Linked DNA regions of Homo sapiens. The protein of the gene in region 1 interacts with the protein of each later gene in a pairwise test. Each region holds a gene or a part of one and is shown in the gene's direction. Other genes may lie near its edges.

Region 1 (3,500 bases):
AGTGCAGCATAGAAACCTGTTCAAATTGGTGCAGCAATTTCACATCAGCATAAGTAGCTTGTTTTGGTGGTGGTGGTTTTTTAATCAGTTTAGGTGCTTTTTTTCTGAAATCATATAGGTAATATGTAAATGTATTCTCCTGCAGCCTGCCCTTGCATTTAAATAGTGCAGAAGGACACAGCAGACTTGTCACATTCCCCTTCACCCAGCACCCCTCCCCAGGTGCCAGCTCCTCCAGGTCCTCAGAGATAACTGGTGTTAGCAGTTGGATCCGTGTCCTGAAACTGTCAAGCCTGTATACACAAATACACTATGGTTTTCCTTCTTTTAGAAGCATGAATCTGATTGCATCATACTGCTTTTTTCACATAGTATATTTTCGAGAGCTTTTCATGCATGTAGCTCTTCTCTGTTCTTTTAATTTGTCTTTTATTTGCCTACAAAATATTTTCCAGTGTAGTTATGTCATAATTTATGAATTGGTCCCCTACTGGTAGACATATAAACTAACTCATTAGTTTTGCTATTATATCTTCATTCATACATATTAGTATGCACATGTTTCTCTAGGAGTAGAATTGGCATGTCAAATGTTAAATTCATTTAAAATGTTGCAGCAGTACCCATACTATGCTCTCAAGAGATGTGCTAGTTCCTGTTGTCAGTGGTAATGGGCTGCCATTCCCCTGGGTGAAAGAAATGGATCATTGTTCAGTAGGCATTTCATTTATTATTGGTGAGGTTGCAAACCTCATCATTTGGCTTCTTTTTTTTTTCTTGATAAACAGACATGTTTAATGATAGCTTGCTCTTCACAGAGATGTCTACGGAGACTTTTTATCTATAATCCAGGAGTATATAACCATGCAGCACAGACCAATTAGCCAAATGCAAAATAAACTAGATTCTTACCACAACTATCCTATAAACACTGCAACTATTCTTTCCAAAAAGACCCTAATCTTATGTGAAAACACCTACTGTGGGGGAACCAGAAACCTAGCTATGTGGCCAAAAGGAAAAAATAGCAATTCAGTGGTTAATTGGTGAAAGCAGGAAATGTATGTCCTTTACTGTGCTGCTGTTGCTGCTGCTGCTGCTGCTTTGGTCTTCTTAGTTTTGTTCTTTTTGTCTCTCTTCTTCAGCCCATCCATGTTAGCTCTCAGGAGGTTTGAATAAGCCATCTGAAACTTATTCACTTCCTCGGAGCTCACCACTGTGCTGATCTTCTTTTTCCCATCGGTAGCTCTTAACAGACACTTGTTGTCTGCAGGCTCAAAGCCCTCCACAGTACCTTTCTTTGGAATGGATTTGGTTCGACTGTCATACTTCTTCAAGGTGATATGATGCTGCCTGATGTCCAGCACTTCTGGAAAAGTCTGGTCAGCTCCGTCAGGAGCTGCTCGCTCTCCAACAACACCATCGCGGCGACTCTGGCTCGACTCCCTCTGCTTAAGCCCCTAGCAGTGAGAACTGGTTATTTGGCTTCTTGATTCTTATTGCTGAGATCGTAGATGTTAAGAGTGGTGGGTCCATAGCAACTATAGAAGATGAGGGAACCAAACCCTCAAGGACCATGGCTCAGCTCAGGGTGGTGTAAGCGTCATGCCACCAGTGGTGGCATTGTGGTACCTGGAAGCAAGAGCTCCTGATTTCACATTCTCTGTTTCTCCCGGATGCTAGTTATGGTAATAGGACATTTTAATTTTGGTGTAACTTGCCAGAGTATTTCTCCAAACCTTTCATCTGAGGAATCAAGGGTCCGTAAGTATTAAGATCAGTCTGTCCTGTGCTGCTGAGGCGTGGATTGGAGACTGGGGAGGGGCACTGGGAAGACACTTAAAGATTGCGTGCTGGAAAATCAGGCACTGTTGCTTCTGGAAAAGCCTCCAGGAATGTGGTAAAGCAGATGTTTTCTTCTAGTTGCATGTGATTATTCCCCCTCTCCTGGCTTGCTATGGGAATATTGTGGTGCTTTGACCCTTAGCAGGATGCTCTGGGGAGAAGCGATGACTTCTTAGAAGGTGTTTGAGGGGTGTGACACAATGGGCTGGCAGAGAAGGCGTCTGGTGGCTTCCATGAATGGGCTGATCTCGGGGCCCTCCCTGCAGGCTGGGCTGTCCAGTGGACACAGTGGGCTTCGGAAAGCCCTGGCTTACTGGACCACAGAGTCCTTTACCTATTGCTCAAAGGGGCAGAGAGCAGGAGTGGTGGAGGGGGAACCCTTGGGAGATGAAGGGACTGCAGAGTTGAGCCACACTGGACCCAGCTCCCATTCAGCACCTTATGGGTGTGTGCCTTGAGCAGCTATTTTATCTCCCTGGGCCTCAGCTTTTCCCTGTAAGTTAGGAATAATAATTAGTACCTGCCTCACAGGGTTGTTGTGAAGATTAAAAGAATAATGTTTATAAATCTCTCAGCATATTACCTAATTAGTACTTGGTAATTGTAAGTAACTCCACCTATTTGTGTTCCCTTTTCCATATATATATGTATCTCTCTCTCTCTCTCTCTCTATATATATATATATATATGTATGTGTATATATATGTGTATATATGTATATGTGTATATATGTGTATATATGTATATATATGTGTGTGTGTATATATGTATATATATATGTGTTTGTGTGTGTGTGTGTGTGTGTGTGTGTGTGTGTGTGTGTGTGTGTGTATATATATATTTTTTTTTTTTTTTTGAGACGGAGTCTCATTTTGTCGCCCAGGCTGGAGTGCTGTGCCGCGATCTTAGCTCATTTCAACCTCTGCCTCCCAGGTTCAAGCAATTCTCCTGCCTCAGCCTCCCTAGTAGCTGGAATTACAGGTGTGCGCCACCACGCCTGGCTAATTTTTGTATTTTTAGTAGAGATGGGGTTTCACTGTGTTTGTTGGCCAGGCTGGTCTTGAACCCTGGACTTAAAGTGATCTGCCCACCTTGGCCTCCACAAGTGTTGGGATTACAGGCGTGAGCTACCACACCTGGCTAATAACTGTTTTAAAATGAGTGACTACATATCATATTTGCATATTACATAAGTAGACTTAATCTGGTAACATTAAAGAGAAGAGGTCAGGAGATTAGTAGCTGTCGGGGCAGATGAGGGTGGGGGCTATGGGAATTAAAAGGGATGAAGGTGGGAGGCTTCGGTGGAGGCCTTAGGTGGGGCAGGAGAGTTGAGTTGGGATGTTCTCTTCCAATACCATTGCTCCTGCAGAATCCCCTCCTTTGTGCACATCAGAGCCCCACACGCAGAGGCCTTTTCTCTTTTTTTAGATAGACTGAGGGTTAGGGGATTGCTAGTGCAACCTCTACCCTTTATTTCGAGGTGGCTGAGTGGGGCCCTGAAAGCCAAAGTGTCTGCCTCAAGCTACACAGATGGCCAGGACAGAGCACAAGTAGGCCCAGCTCTCTGTGCTCTGGGGAGTTGAGATTTCTTTCCCTTCTTCCCTGCACTGCCATGTGTTGCTTATAGCCAGATGCAGGAAAGAGACATGGTG
Region 2 (4,297 bases), on another chromosome or scaffold:
ACTGCAGCTGTTCTAATCCACTCCTACCAACAGTTTTGAAGAGATGTTGATAGCGAATCAAGCTTTATAACCATGTGATCCCATCTTATGGTTTCAATCCATGCACAGGAGGAAAATTGTGGGCACGAAGTTTCCAAAGGGAAAATTTATAGATTGGTAGTTAATGAAATACAGTTTTCCTCCTTGGCAAATTTAATTTACTAGCTTCACTGTATAGGAAAAAGCAGGAAAAAAATTAAAACCAACTCACCTCCAAACCTGTTTTGAGCTTTTACTTGTCTGCCCAATTGATAGTTTCTACTCTCTGCTTTTGATGAAAATATTTTTTATTATTTTAATGTAACTTCTGAAAACTAAATTATCTAGAAGCAAATAAAAAGATATTGCTTTTATAGTTCCCAGAAGGAAAAAACAAACACTAGGAAAGTTCTATCTATCAGATGGGGGAGATGTGATGGAGGCAGTGATATTTGAGCTGAGCCTTGAACAATGAACAGGAGTCTACCAAGCGAGAGGCTAGCGGGTGGCCCTCCAAGATAAAACAACAGCATGTACAAAGGCATGGAGACATACACATCTTGACTTTTCCAGGAATGGTGGGAACGCTGGTGGAGCTAGAATGTAGGTACATAGCATAAAGTGGCAGACGGGAAGCCTTTGGAAATCTTATTACATAGGACCCTGGATGCCATTCCAATGACTTTGAATTTTCTGTAGGCTGCCAGCGAAATTTCCAAGCGTGATAGAGTCATGTCTATCTATGCACTTCAGAAAGACAACCTCAGGGTTAATGAAGAAAATGCATTGGAATATAAGAAACTGGTGACCAGAGTGATCAATTGCATGACTGTTGTGAAAGTCCAGGTGAGGGGAGCTGTGGGCAAGGTCAGAGTTGAGAGGCATTTCAGAGATAAAATGACAGTAACTAAGTAGATGTCAGACTGAGAAGAAAGGGCTGTACCAGATATATGGTGCTATCATTAAGTGAGCTCAACATTGCAGAAAAGGGGTAGGTTTGGTGGGAGTTGCTCACAAAACATGTTTAGTCTAAGCAAAACCATTGCCATGGGCTCAGATAAAAGTTAAGAAGTGGAAACCATTCCTACATTCCTATAGGAGCTGCTATCTGGAAGGCCTAGTATACACGTGGCTTTTCAGCTGTGATTTTGTTTGATTTTAGGGATTATTCTTTTTCTGAATCTGAGCAATGTTAGCGTGTAAAATACTCACGCCCACAGCTTTGACTGGGTGAGAAGTTATCATAAATCATATTGAGTTTGTTGTGATACCTTCAGCTTCAACAAGTGATGAGTCAGGTCAACTCCATGTGAAAGTTCCTTGCTAAGCATGCAGATATTCTGAAAGGTTTCCTGGTACACTGGCTCATGGCACAGATAGGAGAAATTGAGGAAGGTAAGTCTTTGACCCCACCTGATAACACCTAGTTTGAGTCAACCTGGTTAAGTACAAATATGAGAAGGCTTCTCATTCAGGTCCATGCTTGCCTACTCCTCTGTCCACTGCTTTCGTGAAGACAAGATGAAGTTCACAGTGAGTAGATTTTTCCTTTTGAATTTACCACCAAATGATTGGAGACTGTCAATATTCTGAGATTTAGGAGGTCTGCTTCTTATGGCCCCATCATGGAAAATTTGTTTTAAAAAAATTCTCTCTTCAAACACATGGACACAGAGAGGGGAACAACACACACTAGGTCCTGTTGGGGGGTGGAGAGTGAGGGGAGGGAACTTAGAGGACAGGTCAATAGGGGCAGCAAACCACCATGGCACACATATACCTATGTAACAAACCTGCACGTTCTGCACATGTATCCCTTTTTTTTAGAAGAAGAAATAATGAAAAAAAATCTTTTTTCTATTTATATAATCATGGCATTTATAAGCATCTCTATAGAGAAGGATAATTGTGCTGAGATTAGACAGCTGTCTGAGCACCTCACACTGACCTATTTTTAACAAAATGACTTTCCGCATCACCTGATTCCGGTCTCCATGCAGGGTAAGCAGTTCCTAAGCCCTAGAAAGTGCCGATCATCCCTCATTCTTGAATTCCTCCTTTTATTTACCAAAATTCCTGAGCATGTTCAGGAAAGATGAAAAGCTTATTATCAAAATAAGTGGCTGAGATAGACTTCTTGTCACATTTGTTACAGTAAAATGGGTCTCCAAGAAAGAAAGATTTGCCTTGGGCTCTAGCATGGCCATTTATTTAAGAAAGCATCTGAAACATGAAGCTACCACAGCATCTCTCCTGTGGTTCCAGACAGAAGCCTGAGAGTCTAGGAGGAGGTGGACCGAGAAACCCTGCCAAAGTAACTAGTAGTGCCGGGTTTCTCACAACACGATGCAAAGGGGCTAGAATCAGATGACTATTTTCATGTTTCAACATACTACACACTGGAAAACGTTACGGCAGACTCTACTTTATAATGGGGCTGCAAATGTAAAATGACTACCTAGAACTAGGTCCTCTTAATAGCAGCAAAGTTTAAAAGGGTCAGAGGGAGCTCCAGACACAGGTTAGATTTGATTTCTCTCCTAGTTCTGCTGTGAACAAGAGGTATAAGTTTGGCCAACTCACTTAACCCCTGAAGCTCAGTTACCTTATCTGTAAAATGATTGCATTGTACTAGGTGTTCTCTAAAATTTCTTCTACCTCTGACTTTTTAGGAGACTAATTTTTAACTCCTTTTTAAGCTATTGGGAGAAAAATTTAATTTTTTTTCAAAAGTTACCTTGAATCTCTAGAGCAGTTCTCAAAACTATTTTGTCCCAGGCAAAGGAAATGAGACTAGGTACCCAGAATGAGGCACCCTGCATAAAGCTCTGTGCTCTGAAAACCAATGTCAGGGACCCTGTGATAAATAATTAAACCAAGTATCCTGGGACACTGCTAGTGACATCGCCTCTGCTGATCACTCTTGCCAGCGAGACACTCTATACTTGCTTTCTCATCATTGGCATCCAAACTGCCTACTAATCCATTGCTTTGGAAAGTTTTTTTTAATAAAAAGATTATTTCTATTAGGAAGAAAACATCCCATGTTAAATAGGAAAATTAACTGAAATCATTTTCAGATGTGATTTTTAGCACTTATAGCCATCTCAAACCATAGTATTCATTTATACTATGCTATTTATTGTAAAACTTCTTTTTTTTTCCAAGGAAAATAAGATAGTTTGCTTTATTTTAAAACAGTAACTTTCTTATATTGGGGCACTGACCAAAATTCAATACTGGTACAAATATGTTACCTAGGAGGTCAAAATATGTGCCAGGTGAATTTTCTGAATTTCTCTAAAGAGAGAATTTTAAACCTTATAAAACAATTAGAAACAAGTGAGTGAGAGGTGAGCATCAACAACCTGTGTAACATAAGCCACAGTACAAATTTAAGCTGAATAACCAAGCCATGTCAGTTATCCCAAATCATTTTTGTTAATATTTAGGAGGATACACATATTTTCAATAACTTAAAAGTGAATCTTTACTCCTATCTCTTAATACTCGAAGAAGTATAACTTTCTTCTTTTACTAGATTTAAATAATCCAAATATCTACTCAAGGTAGGATGCTGTCATTAACTATAGCTGAGTTTATCCAAAATAGAAAAATCATGAAGATTTATAAAGCATTTTAAAAATAATCATTTATAGCAAGTCCTTGAAAGCTCTAAATAAGAAAGGCAGTTCTCTACTTTCTAATAACACCTATGGTTTATATTACATAATATAATTCAACAAAACAGCATTCTGACCAATGATAATTTATAGGAAATTCATTTGCCAAGTATATGTTTTATTATAAAGTTAATATTTTGACCAATCTTAAAAATTTTTAAACTCTATTCTGACATTTCCAGAAGTATTATCTTAGCAAAGTCATCTTTATGATACCACTTATTAAACTGAAGAGAAACAAGATGGTACATTCTGGGTTTTACTTTAAAAGGGATTTGATTCAATAATTTGATTTATCACTACTTGAAAATTACATTTTCTTCCTCAGTACTGGATGGCAATGAGATGAAAGCAGCTTTCCTGGCTCTCAACTTCCCTTCTTCATCAATTTTTCCAGCGTTTCATAAGGCCTACACTAAAAATTCTAAAACTATATATCACATTAATATAATTACTTATAATTAATCAGCAATTTCACATTATCGTTAAAACCTTTATGGTTAAAAAATGCAAGGTAAGAGAAGAAAAAAACACATTGAACTAGAACTGAACACATTGGTAAAATTAGTGAATACTTTTCATAAGCTTGGATAGAG
Region 3 (3,500 bases), on another chromosome or scaffold:
GATGTTTTAAAAGCAGCAACTTGGTGGTGTACTACTGGAACTAATGACTGCAAAGTGTTAAACGACTGAAATATACAAACAGTCTCTTAGTTACTCATTTCCATCTTCTCTTCAACTTTCACATCAGTCTTCCGGAATCAAGATCAACATATCAGGTGGTCATTGCCTTTCTCCATTGTCTAGTAGACATGTCTAAAGTTCAAACTTTATAGGATAAATAAATGTATAATAGATTATCTGTCACTTGTGGTTGAAAGGCAAATCTACAATAAATGTGAGAATTTTCCACAATAAAATATGGATAACTTATAAAAACATTGGTTACTAAAATTAGATCCTCATTTTATTGTAGTTGGTTCAATTACACTAATTCTAAAAGCATCCATGCATATTTATATCTCCAGTCTCTGTTCAGGAAAAGGAACATATTGAATATTTTCCTCAGGAATATGGACCAGAATTGTATCCCTTCACACAAACATACACATACACATATGCACATCATTCAGGTAGTATATGTTCTTTTGTTTTCTTCATGCTTCTGACTGCATCAGAATCACATTCCAAATTCTCTTTTCTTATGAAGAAGAGATGTCAGATCATCAATTTTAGTAAATAAAATATAAAATGTCCCCCTGCAAGGACAGTTTTCAGGTACTTAAAACTTTTCATCAGTATTGGACAGAAATCAATTAGTTGTTGATTTGGTTTTTCTCCAAATGGATAAAATATTGAAAATTGAATTGCCAATTGACAAAATAATTATTACAACAAACTATTTCTTATTATTTTCAGTTCTGAGAGGAACGTAAGGTTCTATTTCTATAAACACTTAGAGTGTCCTATGATCTTTGGTTGCACTGTTAGCATTTATTATAAGCACTTATAACTATGATGCTTCATTTAGATTTTTATCTCTTGCGCTTGTTTTAGGTTAGGAAATTAAGTTACCAAGCACGTTGCTCTGTGCTGGACCTCCAAGAGTGATCATCCGATCAATGAGTATTCATGGAGGCATACTCAGAACTGCAGTGAGTCCTGAGAAAATGTAGAAGAGTTGAAAAAGATATGGTCTTACTCCTAAGGTAGTTAATGAGAATGCATGAAAAACAAAAACAAAAGATAGAAGACATATAGAATAAAAAATCTAAGCATAAACTGTAAATACAGAAGGTCAGAGAAAATGAAAATGACTGACAAACTTTATGGGAACAGCAGAATTTGACTTCTCTTTGAAAGGCATTAATTGAGTGAAAGTGAGGGCATATAAAGGAATAATACCAACCAAATGATAAAAGTGAGAATAATAGGGGAAGTATCTTTATAGGACTTTAATTAGAAAGATCTGGATGCCCTAGAAGATGTCTGTTGGGGAGTTCTGAAGCATAAGACTGACAACAGGTTGTGAAGGCCCTTAGAAAACTATGGTGAAATAATATAGTATTAATATAATAGAAACAAATCTTTTTAGTAGCAGGGAGGATGCTAAAAACTAAAATATATATTACTAATGAGTGAGATGTAATCTTTCATGAATATTAAGCTTTGGGATAAATTTTGAAAGGATCTTTTAGTTGCTTCTCACATGGAAAATATGTCACTATGAAATGTGAGACCCTAATGCTGATAAAAGTAGAAAAATAGTAAATCATTATGGTATAATAATTATCTCAGGCTTAGCTTGTATCATTTGCTCAGAATTTGGAGAATTAAAATAATTTTATTGTTTGACATGGAAAAATAATTACTAACTTCTGGGTACAGTCATTAAAGCCTGATAGATAAATTCATCTGAAATATGCCATGTGAAACAGCTATTAGATACATCTTCTCAATAATTTTCAAGACGATATTACATACTTTTAATTTTATAACAAAATTCCACTTCATTATCTGAGTTGATAATTTGATTAAATGTTAAAAATTATAGATAAGGAATATATTTTGGAGTTCATAGAAAACACACCACTTTATTAGATAGAGACTGGCTTCAGTTCTCATTTTATCTGCTCTTCTCATTTCTTCATATTTTGAGTAGACTTGCACTGATGATGTCATTACTCAGTCATTATTTTCTGTTCTGTTAAGGTACAACTACTGGGCCTTGAAATCTATCCTTCACAATCTTGGCTGAGATAAGGACTTGGCACAGGATGATAGAGCCTGGACACAAGAGATCTGGAGAGGGAACTGCTATTTGCTGCTACATTCAGATTATGAGATGTCAGGGAACTGTAAAAAGGGTAATGAATTTTTAAAGAGAGTAAAGAGTTATGCTGTGTCCCGGTCAACTGAAATACATTAAAAATTAATTAGATGGTAGTTCTTAACTTTTTAAGGCAGATACCTTGAGAATCTAGTGAGTTATAGACCCTCTCCCTAGAAAAGTATAGAACTGTTTATATGGACAATAATTCACATGCATTCAGAGATCTTAGGGATCTCCTGAATGTTTTCTTGGATCCCAAGTGAAAAATTCCTGAATCAGGTCTCTTAGGTGTGCGGTTAATGTCATGTATAACAATGGGGGGACCCTTACTTATCTAAATATAATTATCCCAATCCTAATAATGATGAGGTTGCATAGGAAAGTAATAGTGTACCAAACTTTAGATTATTCACTAAAAAAGTTGTTCATTTATGAAGTAGTCGTTTATCAAACATGTCCTCCCCACTCAGCAAACTATGCCTTCTATTTATTATATATGGGTCAGTTTCACTATAATTACTGAGTGTTATAAACATCTGACCATAACATTTTGAAATGATGCAAATAAATTTCCAAACAAAAATAGTGTGAATTTAAAAGCAAATTATTTGAGTATCTAAGAAACAAGATAGACTTCTAGAAAAATTTGACTCTCTAGAATATTTCTTGCAGAAATGAGATTTTTCATAATAGTAAAAGAGGCATATGTTTATCAAACAATGCTGTCACAAAAAGCATCAACTGTAATGGGACTATTAATGCATAATTATTGATTTATTCATTCAATTAATATACAATTATCCCTTTTCATTTAAAGATTTAATTCATAATTACAATTATAATAAAACTTCCTTTAAAGTAAGATACAATAATTTTATTGTTTTTCATTCTTTTTTCAACAAAATATCCCATCCAATCATTTTTTATATTATTAAATATTGGCTGCTTTTTCTTGGATTCACATTAAACAGCCCTTTCCAACTTCCAATTGTCTTAAAATAATGATGACCTCCTGTGAGTAGATACAGCTCTTTACAATTTTTTTCTTTAGTGCCTTTTCTTCTTGAATTTTTCCTATATCAAATGGAGAATATATGTACAGATGGTATTTTCTCAGTTTATAGGCATATCAGTGACCATGGCTTTCTTTATATAGGTTTTTAAAAAAGCCCTAAATAATAAATAGCCAGATGAGCTGGGGACATTGAGAAATAGCCTTCCTCTTCCTTTTTCAACTCATTTTTTTCCCACCTACATGACTGTAAATCAAATATTTAATAGCTCTTACTTA
Region 4 (3,500 bases), on another chromosome or scaffold:
ACAAAAATTAGCCGGGTGTAGTGGTGCATGCCTGTAATCCCAGCTACTCGGGAGGCTGAGGCAGGAGAATCACTTGAACCCAGGAGGTGGAGGTTGCAGTGAGCTGAGATCACGCCACTGCACTCCAGCCTGGGGGACAGAGTAAGCAGAGTGAGACACCATCTCACCAAAAAAAAAAAAAAAAAAGAAATCAAAGATTTAAAGTGAATTCTTTTTTAATTATATACCAAATCCTGGGGTAGGAATAGCAGCTGGATTTAAAGTAGTGAATGCAGAAGTAAATTGGTGGAGCAGGACCAGGAGGAGTTAATCACACCAGCCTATTGATAGTTCTAGCTCCCTATGTTGGCTGCACTGGAATCGGTCACTGTAGCTCACCATTAACCCTCTGCTTGCCCGGCCCCTCCAGGTTCCTGGCTCACGTCAGCTCCTACACAGAGACACCAGTGGTGGCCTGCATCGTGTCGGGGTTCCTGGCAGCGCTCCTCGCACTGTTGGTCAGCTTGAGAGACCTGATAGAGATGATGTCTATCGGCACGCTCCTGGCCTACACCTTGGTCTCTGTCTGTGTCTTGCTCCTTCGATACCAACCTGAGAGTGACATTGATGGTTTTGTCAAGTTCTTGTCTGAGGAGCACACCAAGAAGAAGGAGGGCATTCTGGCTGACTGTGAGAAGGAAGCTTGTTCTCCTGTGAGTGAGGGGGATGAGTTTTCTGGCCCAGCCACCAACACATGTGGGGCCAAGAACTTACCATCCTTGGGAGACAATGAGATGCTCATAGGGAAATCAGACAAGTCAACCTACAACGTCAACCACCCCAATTACGGCACCGTGGACATGACCACAGGCATAGAAGCTGATGAATCCGAAAATATTTATCTCATCAAGTTAAAGAAGCTGATTGGGCCTCATTATTACACCATGAGAATCCGGCTGGGCCTTCCAGGCAAAATGGACCGGCCCACAGCAGCGACGGGGCACACGGTGACCATCTGCGTGCTCCTGCTCTTCATCCTCATGTTCATCTTCTGCTCCTTCATCATCTTTGGTTCTGACTACATCTCAGAGCAGAGCTGGTGGGCCATCCTTCTGGTTGTTCTGATGGTGCTGCTGATCAGCACCCTGGTGTTTGTGATCCTGCAGCAGCCAGAGAACCCCAAGAAGCTGCCCTACATGGCCCCTTGCCTCCCCTTTGTGCCTGCCTTTGCCATGCTGGTGAACATCTATCTCATGCTAAAGCTCTCCACCATCACATGGATCCGGTTTGCGGTCTGGTGCTTTGTGGGTAAGCAACTTCCTTTGGAGCCTTAAGAGTTCCCTTTTAAGGTCTTAAGCATGCTTATCCCAAAATTACCTCCTAGCTGGACTAGGCAACTCCGTTCCCAGAGAAATCTGGCTGGTTCTATGGACCCTTGTGTTCCGCCTAAGAGTCAATAAAGCCAGTTGTCCCCTTTCTGCCTGTAATGTTCTTAGTCATTGGTTCTGGAAAAATGATGTTGATTAATCCATCGCTTTACTGAATTACTGAAAGTTCTTTCTATATCAGGATAATTAATACCAGAAAAAGTCCACTTAAAGTGAATCCACATTTTTAAGGTGACAAAAATAGCATAGTATAATTGGGGTCAGGGCATTTGGATGGAATTTTATCATAGAAACTAAGAATTGTAAAATGAAAAACTATCTTAGATTTCACAAAATTAAATTAAAATAGCAATTATGCTCTCATTTTTAAATGAACAAGGTGTGAATTAAGTGTGGATTTTTTGGCATAATTTTTCTGACAAAATTGAATCATGGCATCATTTAACATCTCTCACTTCATACTGACTTTTGTAAAATATTCAAAAGTTTTTCATATTTCCCAAGGTCCTTTCTTCATTCATTGACATTCCAATCATTCACTTGGGAAGTACCCATCATGCCACCATCCTTACTGATTTTCTCTCTCCTGCTGGTAATAACTAATATGACTCTGTTAGGTCCTCAATTGTCTACAATTTTGGGTGTGAATTCAAATTGTTCTCTAAACTCACTTTCACGGACTTCAAGAAGTCCTGTACCTTCTCTAAGATTTCTAATTTTACTTTGTGATCCATTTCTATTGTATTTGCAGTACTTGCTTATCATCTAGGACAATCTCTGATGTTCATGAGGTGGCTGGGGATTGATGCTAGTAAGAACTTGAGAAGTGTAATGGAAGACTCATTTTAAAGTTCCTTAGTCACTATTTGTATGTCCTCTGAACAACTTGGTAACCCTGGGGTCTCTGATAACAAATTCTTAGCTAAAGAGGATCTTTAGAAGCTCTGGGGAATAGAAGAGTAAACCCTGCCTAAAGGAGAGGCAAGACAAACACACGAGTCACTTAGCCCAAGAGAGGCCAAAGAGACTCTTTTTGTTGTTGTTGTTGTTGTTGTTATTTGTTTGTTTTGTTTTGTTTGTTGTTGTTGAGATGGAGTCTTGCTGTGTCGCCCAGGCTGGAGTGCAGTGGCTTGATCATGGCCCACTGCAACCTCCGCCAACCAGGTTCAAGCAATTCTCCTGCCTCAGCCTCCTGAGTAGCTGATATTACAGGTGAGTGCCACCATGCCCTGCTAATTTTTGTGTTTTTAGTAGAGATAGGGTTTCACCATGTTGGCCAGGCTGTTCTCGAACTCTCAACCTCATGATCTGCCCACCTCAGCCTCCCAAAGTGCTGGGATTACAGGCATGAGCCACTGTGCCCAGCCCACAGAGACTCTTAGTGATGAGTGGCAGTGCATCCACTCCTAGAGATCAGGAATACACTTGTTCAACATGTGTCCTCCGTGTCTGGAGCAGGGTGCCCGCAGTATGTGCTCAAAAATACTTCTTAAATTATTATAAAGTACTCTTCAAAGGGGAAAAAGGAAAACTTCCAGTCAGAATTGCCAGAAAAAACTTGGAGGGGGTAGAATACAAAGTGGCCCTATAAGTTAAGATATAGATAGAAAGAAGTGGGGGAAAAAGTAGCAACCAATGGAAAGGGCATATGTCTTCCCCAGAGGCCTGACTCCTTGCTTCTGAAGGCTGCTCTATGGCTTCCTGTAAGCATTTTGTCCCAATTTTTCACTATTCTAAGTCCCCCTGGTTAGACTTCAGGAGGATTTCTTGAGAGGACCCCACTGACTCATCAAGATTTTAACCAATTTTTATAACACATTTACAATCTCTTGGCTGGGCATAGTGGCTCACGTCTATAATCCCAGCACTTTGGGAGGCCGAGGAGGGCAGATCACCTGAGTTTAGGAGTTCGAGACTAGCCTGGCCTACATGGCAAAACCCCATCTCTATAAAAAATGCAAAAATTAGCCAGGCGTGGTGGCAAGTGCCTGTAATCCCAGCTACTTGGGAGGATGAGACAGGAAAATTGCTTGAACCCAGGAAATGGAGGTTGCAGTGAGCTGAGATCACACCACTGCACTCTAGCCTGGGAGACAGAGCAAGACTCCATTTCAAAAAATTTTTTTAAAAAAA

The links.
Region 2: the proteins of SMCO4 (region 1) and GKN1 interact in binary tests that used the Homo sapiens proteins (3 or more experiments, as listed by UniProt).
Region 3: the proteins of SMCO4 (region 1) and TFEC interact in binary tests that used the Homo sapiens proteins (3 or more experiments, as listed by UniProt).
Region 4: the proteins of SMCO4 (region 1) and SLC7A14 interact in binary tests that used the Homo sapiens proteins (3 or more experiments, as listed by UniProt).

What each region holds. Positions count from the first base shown.
Region 1 is NC_000011.10:93,533,392-93,536,891, reverse strand, and holds part of SMCO4 (single-pass membrane and coiled-coil domain-containing protein 4), read left to right. Parts: intron 1-3,500.
Region 2 is NC_000002.12:68,973,139-68,977,435, forward strand, and holds the start of GKN1 (gastrokine-1 precursor), read left to right. Parts: upstream 1-1,497; 5' UTR 1,498-1,539; coding exon 1,540-1,551; intron 1,552-4,297. UniProt on the Homo sapiens protein: Has mitogenic activity and may be involved in maintaining the integrity of the gastric mucosal epithelium.
Region 3 is NC_000007.14:115,936,764-115,940,263, reverse strand, and holds part of TFEC (transcription factor EC), read left to right. Parts: 3' UTR 1-3,500. UniProt on the Homo sapiens protein: Transcriptional regulator that acts as a repressor or an activator. Acts as a transcriptional repressor on minimal promoter containing element F (that includes an E-box sequence). Binds to element F in an E-box sequence-specific manner.
Region 4 is NC_000003.12:170,478,076-170,481,575, reverse strand, and holds part of SLC7A14 (solute carrier family 7 member 14), read left to right. Parts: intron 1-409; coding exon 410-1,287; intron 1,288-3,500. UniProt on the Homo sapiens protein: Imports 4-aminobutanoate (GABA) into lysosomes. May act as a GABA sensor that regulates mTORC2-dependent INS signaling and gluconeogenesis. The transport mechanism and substrate selectivity remain to be elucidated.